Homo sapiens: one gene and its partner. The protein of the gene in region 1 purifies or fractionates together with the protein of each later gene. This does not show direct contact. Each region holds a gene or a part of one and is shown on either strand. Other genes may lie near its edges. The genes, in order: FAM13A and PPP2R3B.

The links.
Region 2: the proteins of FAM13A (region 1) and PPP2R3B purify together in Homo sapiens (affinity purification with mass spectrometry; one large-scale study listed by BioGRID and IntAct). This does not show direct contact.

The regions. Positions count from the first base shown.
Region 1 is NC_000004.12:89,054,159-89,058,705, forward strand, and holds the start of FAM13A (protein FAM13A), read right to left. Parts: upstream 3,028-4,547; 5' UTR 2,807-3,027; coding exon 2,780-2,806; intron 1-2,779.
Region 2 is NC_000023.11:338,263-342,073, forward strand, and holds part of PPP2R3B (serine/threonine-protein phosphatase 2A regulatory subunit B'' subunit beta), read right to left. Parts: intron 3,670-3,811; coding exon 3,621-3,669; intron 3,135-3,620; coding exon 3,045-3,134; intron 2,679-3,044; coding exon 2,503-2,678; intron 635-2,502; coding exon 516-634; intron 449-515; coding exon 342-448; intron 1-341. UniProt on the Homo sapiens protein: The B regulatory subunit might modulate substrate selectivity and catalytic activity, and might also direct the localization of the catalytic enzyme to a particular subcellular compartment.

The DNA of each region.
Region 1 (4,547 bases):
GCAAAGAGTTTAAAAAAGAAAAGAAATGAGGAAGATAAAGTAGGTTAGTCAATGGACATAGAAACTGAGTTTATTGGAACCAATTTGTGTCCCACTTCAAGAGTCCACACACACATACAGACACACAAAGATACACACAGACACACACACACACACACACGTACGTACTACAGATATCTAGTACTCATTATACTGTCTGAAGTATTAATGTCTTCAGCAGCAGGATATTTCAGTAGTTGCTACATATATGTATAAGTATGTAAGTCCTAAATGTTGGGGTTCAAAAAGCTATACCCCAAAATATGGTGCTTTGGCATGCTGGGTATTTTTAATTAAAATGTCTCAGAAATAAGCCTCAGAACCAAGGTCTCTCTCTGCCTTTCCACTCTCCTGCCCTCCCTCAGTCTCTCTTTTTCTTTCCTAAAGCACTGAGAGTGACTCTCTCTGGAATTTCCTTATCTGATTAAGGAAGCTTCTTTCCAAAAGAAATGCAATTGTCTTAAGATCTACTTCCTGAGAATCTCATCAAATAACCATGAAAAATTAACCATCAGAAAAGAGACTAAAAGCTGTCACCATATCCACACTGACTTTTCATCTATTCTTCTGAGGACAGCTCCAAGAGATTGGCTGGGAGACTTTATCTGCATAAAAACACAACCTTCATTCCACCCCTCACCTTTCCACCACCTCACCATAGCTCAGGGAAACGCTGTCCCAGGCCATGCTCTTTGAACCCATTCATTCACTTTAAAAATTATTTACTACCTCTCTAAAATTACCTGCAGCTCCCTACTTCTCTCTTCCCCAAAAAGAAGGCATTTAAGCTTCAACCACCTGGCCCTTCTTTGAATCTCATATTTGAGGGGCTCTCATATCCATATACATATTAATAAATTTGTAACTCTTTTTCTCCTATTAATCTATTGCCAATTGTTTCAATAAAATTGCAGAAAGGGCAGAGGAAAAGCTTTCTCTTCACTCCTACACAAAGTAAAAAGTAGTGTATCAGCTCATTGAATGTATTAATGTGTGACTTAGTTCTCCCTTTTTTGTCACGATGTTTAAAATTTTTTTTGTTGTTCTCCAAAAGCTATCTTTTTCCAGATATGCTATGGTACAACTGTTGAAAATGTATTTCCTCCTACAGTAAAACCAAGACAGCACAATCAAAGGCCAACCTTAAGGAGAAGGGTAGAAATGATTGAGAATTACTCATCTACCAGAGTGAATAATCTCTTACACTGTGTGATTTTTATGTCAACTTTAACTGAAATTTTATACATGCTTTGGATATAAATTAAGGGAAAATATAAAGTTTTATACATGAGTCAGTGTGCATTCCAGTCAAGGTAGAGATCAATATATTGCAGGTCAAGGGAAAGAAGTAAAGATCTAATCAGACAATCAGAGATGACTACCAATCTTCATGACCTATCTGCTGCCTCATTCTACACATTTTCAGTTCTGTATTGTTTCTTTTATAAAGCTAGAAAAATAGAAGGGCCACCTCTGCAGTAAAGTAAAAGTCAGTATTTTACACATAGATAAATCAGATTTTGAAGGAAACTCTTTGGGGTGATAAAAAAAGAATAACCACATGGATACCTGGATGCTACTAAGCCTCAGAGTTAAAAGGAAGACAGAGTGACATACATGGTGCTGAAAAGTTTTGAGCCTGGAAACAAGGTCATCCTGCAGTTTCACTAAGAAAACTTAATCTATAGGGCTGGTCTACCATTTGGTGACCATTTGGTGACCATTTGGTGTCTGTGTGTCAAAAATTGCTCAGATATTTCTAAACACTTCAGAATGCCATCAGAAGCTACAGCAAATTGCAGCTCTTTCTGAAACACACACAAAAAAAGAGGATCTGGCCTGAGTGTGATTTTTTAAGTGAGCAGTTAAGGTGATAATAAGGAAGAAGATATTTCTCATTTAATACATTCTAGAAAATAAAATGTCCCTATGGAATACAATAGCAACTTGAAACATAAATATGTGTAATTCTCATACAGATATATGCATTTTCTATATAGTACAATCAAAATTTAAATTACAGCATTCTGCAAATTATATAATTGACAATTTTTGATTATTACAAAAGGTTTTGTACAAGCACCAGCAGAATAATTTAGAAATTCATAAATTCTAAAAATTCTAAAACTCCAGAAATATGCACATTTTCCCAAGGATTTTATTTCAGTGTTATTTATTAATGCTACTGTGTTATAACAACCATTCATTTCTACAGTTTAAGGATACACAAACATTTATCAACTGAGCTTCTCCACCATCACTTTCAGCAATCATGCTGAAACAGAAACTCCAGAATTACTAAACGAAAATAGAAATATAAAACAGAAAAATGTCACACACATACTCAAAAGTAATAAATTAATGGTTACTTCAATTCCTCCTCAAGCTAGCCACAAGATTTCTCTAATAGCTATAATGAAGCATTCATGTTTAACTATTCAGGGACAAGAAAGTCTAAAATGCTTGAAAGTGCTCTACTTTAAATCAAGTTGACTTAACGGAATAAATCAGCATGCATCTTTCACCTTTTTTGGAAACTAAAGTGCACAAATATGCTGAATGCCATCCCAAATCCTGCCTAATACCCATTTAAGTAGATAGGAATTTAAGTAACAAATCTTTCCCCACCTCCTGGGAAGGAAAAATAAGTTACACAAACATCTCATCAAAACAAGGAAGGCAAGGCCCTCTCCTAAAAACTGGCAGTAAACACAGAAGACAGAAGAAGGCCTATACTTACACAGATGGCTAGAGCTCCTGCCCCCATTCTCTCAGAAAGCGTCTGGAAGAACTGAGGAAGACCAGACGAAAATATTAAAACGACAGCAAAATACTAAAATTCCATTCAGCACATATTCTTTGATGTGAAAAACAGCTCCCAATGCAAAGGCCCCAAGGTAAGCGAAGAGCAGCTTCTAACATTTTAGGAAGAGTGGTTTTGCTTCTCTTTCCGCTGAACCCACATGGCTGGAAGGACTGCCTGGAGTTGAAATTTGATCCACAGCCTCAGTGCTGGCAAGTAGAGGGAGTCACGTGACACGGGTCTTAAGTCGCTGACATCTTTTTTTCAAACCTGACTCCCTAGATCCTACACACAGGCTTCTTTGACTCCGAAAACTGCCAGTCACCTGGTGGCTTTCATTAATAGAACCAACAGTGCATAAAGTGAAAACACAGACTTGCTTCCCAGATTCCACACAGCTCTAAGCAAAATGTACGTATTCAGACTCAGGTTTAAAACTGCAGGCACATTATTCATTTTTTCTGAGGCAGTTTTCTCTTCTACTCTTCCTTAGAAACCAGCTAAATTCTACCAAAATTTTCTTCCTTCCATGCTACCCCATCAGAATTGTTTTAAATGAAAATGCTCTATTTTATGTAGCCGTTACTACTTCTAATTATGTATGAGTTGTCTTATAAAAATATACTGATGATAAACATAAACAACATACTTCTAGACAACCATAATTCTACATATGTGATTTGCAGTCTGAAAAATTAGCTAACTGACTTTTCAATAACTTTCTCTTCCACATGCTGTCACTAGAAAATTTGATAGATTTTAAAATTTACAAATATTTGAACTAATAGCTAAAATAGCCACTTCAGGTAAGCCAAAAGGAAACTATCCTATTTTTATTTTTGTTACCATTTTTTCTGTCAATTTGTTTTTCTTTTTTCTTTTGCTGTACCTATTGACCCATCCTCTAAGTTCTCTCCCCTCACCCCCAACCTCCCAACAGGCCCTGATGTGTGTTGTTTCCCCTTTGTGTCCATGTGTTCTCAATGTTCAACTCCCACTTATGAGTGAGAACATGTGGTGTCTGGTTTTCTGTTCCTGTGGTAGTTTGCTGAGGATGACGGCTTCTAGCTTCATACATGTCCATGCAAAAGACATGATCTTGTTCCTTATTATGGCTGCATAGTATTCCATGGTGTATATGTACCACATTTTCTTTATCCAGTCTATCATTGATGGGCATTTGAGTGGGTTCCATGTCTTTGCTATTGTAAACAGTGCTGCGATAAACATATGTGTGTATGTGTCTTTATAGCAGAATGATTTATACTCCTTTGGGTATATACCCAGTAATGGGACTGCTGGGTCAAATGGTATTTCTGGTTCTAGATCCTTGAGGAATCTCCATACTGTCTTCCACAATGGTTGAACTAATTACATTCCCACGGACAGTGTAAAAGCGTTCCTATTTCTCCACATCCTCTCTAGCATCTGTTGTTTCCTGACTTCTCAATAATTGCCATTCTAACTGGCTCGAGATAGTATCTCATTGTGGTTTTGATTTGCATTTCTCTGATGATCAGTGATGGTGAGCTTTTCTTCATAGGTTTGTTGGCTACATAAATGTCTTCTTTTGAGAAGTGTCTGTTCATATCCTTTGCCCACTTTTTGATGGGGTAGTTTGTCTTTTTCCTGTAAATTTGTTTAAGTTCCTTATGGATTCTGGATATGAGACCTTTGTCAGATGCATAGTTTGCAAATATTTTCT
Region 2 (3,811 bases), on another chromosome or scaffold:
CCAGCAGGTGCCAGCCGTGGGATAAGGACAGACGTCGTTGGCGAAACACGACTCGGCCTCCCCGTGCTGGGCCTGATGTGCGAAGCCTCGCGCCCAGGATCACAGAACCCCACGCGGGGAATGACGGGCAGACTGCACCGAGGCCCGGCCCTGTCATCGGCTGTCCTTACCTCACCGGCCCCGTGTCAGGTCTCACCCCGCCCCTCTGTGTCCGCGCACCCCACCTGACTGACCCCGCATCCCCCGGCTGCACACACACCCGTCCTCCCACTCACCCGTCCTCCCCACTCACCCGTCCTCCCACTGACCCGTCCCCCCACTCACCCGTCCTCCCCACTCACCCGTCCTCCCAGGGCTCTCCCGCAGTCTCCTCGGCCACCAGGATGTCGTACTCCTCGGCCGCGTACTTCTCCCAGTCCGAGAGCTCGGGGCCGCCGCTGTCACCGTCCTGGAGGAAGCACACGGGTTACGTACACGGCGTGGCGCGGCCCGGCCCGCGTGCCCGCCGCACTCACCCTGAGCAGGGAGATCTGCTCTTTCTGCTCGTGGTCGAGGTACTTCTCGATGTTGAAGAAGGTGTCGAAGAAGACGTTAGCCAGCTTGCAGCGCTTCAGGTCCTGCAGCGTGATCTTCCCTGCGGGGAGGGGAGTGCGTCCAAGGCGCGTGAGCCCGGTCTCACCTTCGGGGCCTGGGTGTGGGGTGCGCGCGTCCTGTCACACGTGCTTAAGGACGCGGCACGAAGCTCCGGGCTCTCACGCCACGTGTTTGACGTGAAAGGCGGACACGCGAGTGTCCTGGTTCTGGGTGGGGACTGAGGCGTGGGAGGCCGTGATGCGGAGGCGACTAGGGGCCACCGGTGCCCCAAGGATGCGTGGACTGGGACTAGCGCAGGGAGGCGCGGCCAGCAGGGGCGCTGCTGGATCTGAAATTACAGAGAACGGAGCTCCCCGTGCAGGCAGAGGCCAGAGGGTGTCCCGGGGACACTGAGCAGCAGGAGGCGCCCCATGGCCGGGGGGGGCAGGGCTGCAGGGCGGTGCCCGGGCCTCAGAGCCATTTCCAAAGTGAAAGTCCCAGAGCTGGATTCTGAGATGCAGAAGGAAGCCAGGCGGCGTGGACGGTGGGGCTCCCCTTTGCCTTAGAGGGCACGGGGGTGGGTGGGAGGAGCTGGGGAGATGGTGTGGGGGGAACAGGGGTGAGGGGAGGAGCCGGGGGGGGGTGAGAGGGGAGGAGCCGGGGGGGTGAGAGGGGAGGAGCCGGGGGGGGTGAGAGGGGAGGAGCCGGGGGGGGGTGAGAGGGGAGGAGCCGGGGGGGGTGAGAGGGGAGGAGCCGGGGGGGGATGAGAGGGGAGGAGCCGGGGGGGTGAGAGGGGAGGAGCCGGGGGGGTGAGAGGGGAGGAGCCGGGGGGGGGTGAGAGGGGAGGAGCCGGGGGGGGGTGAGAGGGGAGGAGCCGGGGGGGGGGTGAGAGGGGAGGAGCCGGGGGGGGTGAGAGGGGAGGAGCCGGGGGGGGTGAGAGGGGAGGAGCCGGGGGGGGTGAGAAGGGAGGAGCCGGAGGGGGTGAGAGGGGAGGAGCCGGGGGGGGGTGAGAGGGGAGGAGCCGGGGGGGGGTGAGAGGGGAGGAGCCGGGGGGGGGTGAGAGGGGAGGAGCTGGGGGGGGTGAGAGGGGAGGAGCCGGGGGGGTGAGAGGGGAGGAGCCGGGGGGGTGAGAGGGGAGGAGCCGGGGGGGTGAGAGGGGAGGAGATGGGGGGGGTGAGAGGGGAGGAGATGGGGGGGGTGAGAGGGGAGGAGATGGGGGGGGTGAGAGGGGAGGAGATGGGGGGGTGAGAGGGGAGGAGATGGGGGGGGTGAGAGGGGAGGAGATGGGGGGGGCGAGAGGGGGGGAGGAGCCGGGGGGGGTGAGAAGGGAGGAGACGGGGGGGGCGGGGTGAGAGGGGAGGAGACGGGGGGGGGGGGGGTGAGGGGAGGACCGCCTTGTGCGGCATCAGCACGAACGTGGCAACTGCTCCCTCAGCCCAGTGCCAACGTCCCCGGTGAGCTCCGGCCCTAGGTTCTCTAGGTCACCCCTCGGGGGGTGTCGACGCCCCGAATAGGAGGTTCTTGCACTGTGAGACTAGGCACCTGTGGTGCTGGCCCTCCTCACAAACTCAGTAGGACAGCGCCTCACAGGGACGTCCCCTCACCCTGGTCCGTCCCCCCTCCCGTCTGTCCCCTCACCCTGGGCCGTCCCCCCTCCCGTCCGTCCCCTCACCCTGGGCCGTCCCCCCTCCCGTCCGTCCCCTCACCCTGGGCCGTCCCCCCTCCCGTCCGTCCCCTCACCCTGGGCCGTCCTCCCTCCCGTCCGTCCCCTCTCCCTGGGCCGTCCTCCCTCCCGTCCGTCCCCTCTCCCTGGGCTGTCATCCGTCCCCTCTCCCTGGGCCGTCCTCTCGCCCGTCCGTCCCCTCACCCTGGGCCGTCCTCTCGCCCGTCCGTCCCCTCACCCTGGGCCATGCCCTCACGGGGCATCACCTTCAGTCCTCGGCTTGACCAGGTCCAGCATCTGGCAGAGGCAGTCCTGGAAGGGCAGGGCCTCGATGGCCATGCTGTCCAGCCTTCGGCACTGCTCCTCGTAGAAGTACTCGAGCTCGAACATGGACAGGGCGCCGTCCCCGTCCAGGTCCATGCAGCGGAACCAGTACTCGATGCTGCGGCACGGCGAGCTCTGTCAGCCCCTGCCCTGGGCCCTCCCAGCCCGTGACCTGCAGCCCCTGAGGCAGCCCCCACCGGGGGTGCACGCGTCCCCGCTGTGCCTTGCAGCCCCCACCGGGCGTGCAGGCATCCCCTGCCCCCTGCCGCCCCCACCGGGCGCGCACGCGTCCCCCTGTGCCGTGCAGCCCCCACCAGGCGTGCACATGTCCCCCTGTGCCGTGCAGCCCCCACCGGGCGTGCACATGTCCCCCTGTGCCGTGCAGCCCCCACCAGGCGTGCAGGCATCCGCCTGGGGACACATGTCACATGGGCGGCTCCCGGCCCCTCCACTGGGACAAACGCATGCCGCAGCAGGAACCCACCTGGTCGGTGTTTTTTTGTCTTCCTCAGAGATCAAAAACCAGACAAAGTCGGCATAGCTGATCTTCCCTTCCTTCTGCACTTTTCTGCCTCTAGATCGAAAGCCAGGATGGAGAGACGAAGATGCATGTCAGGGAGAGCTTCACAGGAACGGAGCCCCTGTCCACGCGCCTCGGTGAGGGGAGCCCCCCGGGCCCGGCCCTCCTCCTGCCCCCCTCCTGCCCCTCCTCCTGCCTCTCCGGGGAGGAGGTGGAGGCCCCGTGGCCAGAGGGTTTTCCCCAGATCCAGGCAGGGTCAGGAGTGCACCTTCGTTACTGCTCACTCAGGCCCAGCGCCCGACAAGAACCCCCGACCTGGGGCCTGGGCCACCCCCTTCCTCAGACTTCGCGTGACAGTCTTGTGCCACCCCCCCCCACTAGGGATTCACGTGACAGAGACACGTGCCCCCCTCGCCAGGGCCTGGGGTGACAACCACTCGCTGTCGGGGCACAAAAAGCTCACGTCAGGCAACGATGAGGAGAGGGACCGGGGTCCTCGCAGGGGCAATGGCTGCCGTCAGGCGCCTGAGCCGTACGTACCGTGTGACTGCTCCTGAGAAGATCCTGTCTATCATCTTGGTAGAAAGGGCTGGAAAGGAATGCGGTTGATGGGCAGCCCGCACCGTGCCTCGGCCCCGACGTCACCACCCCCCGGAGCCGAGACTGGATGCGGTGGGGACCGAAAAGCTGAGAGGACGCCTGGGTCTGGGAGAGCCCCGGGGCCCCGATGC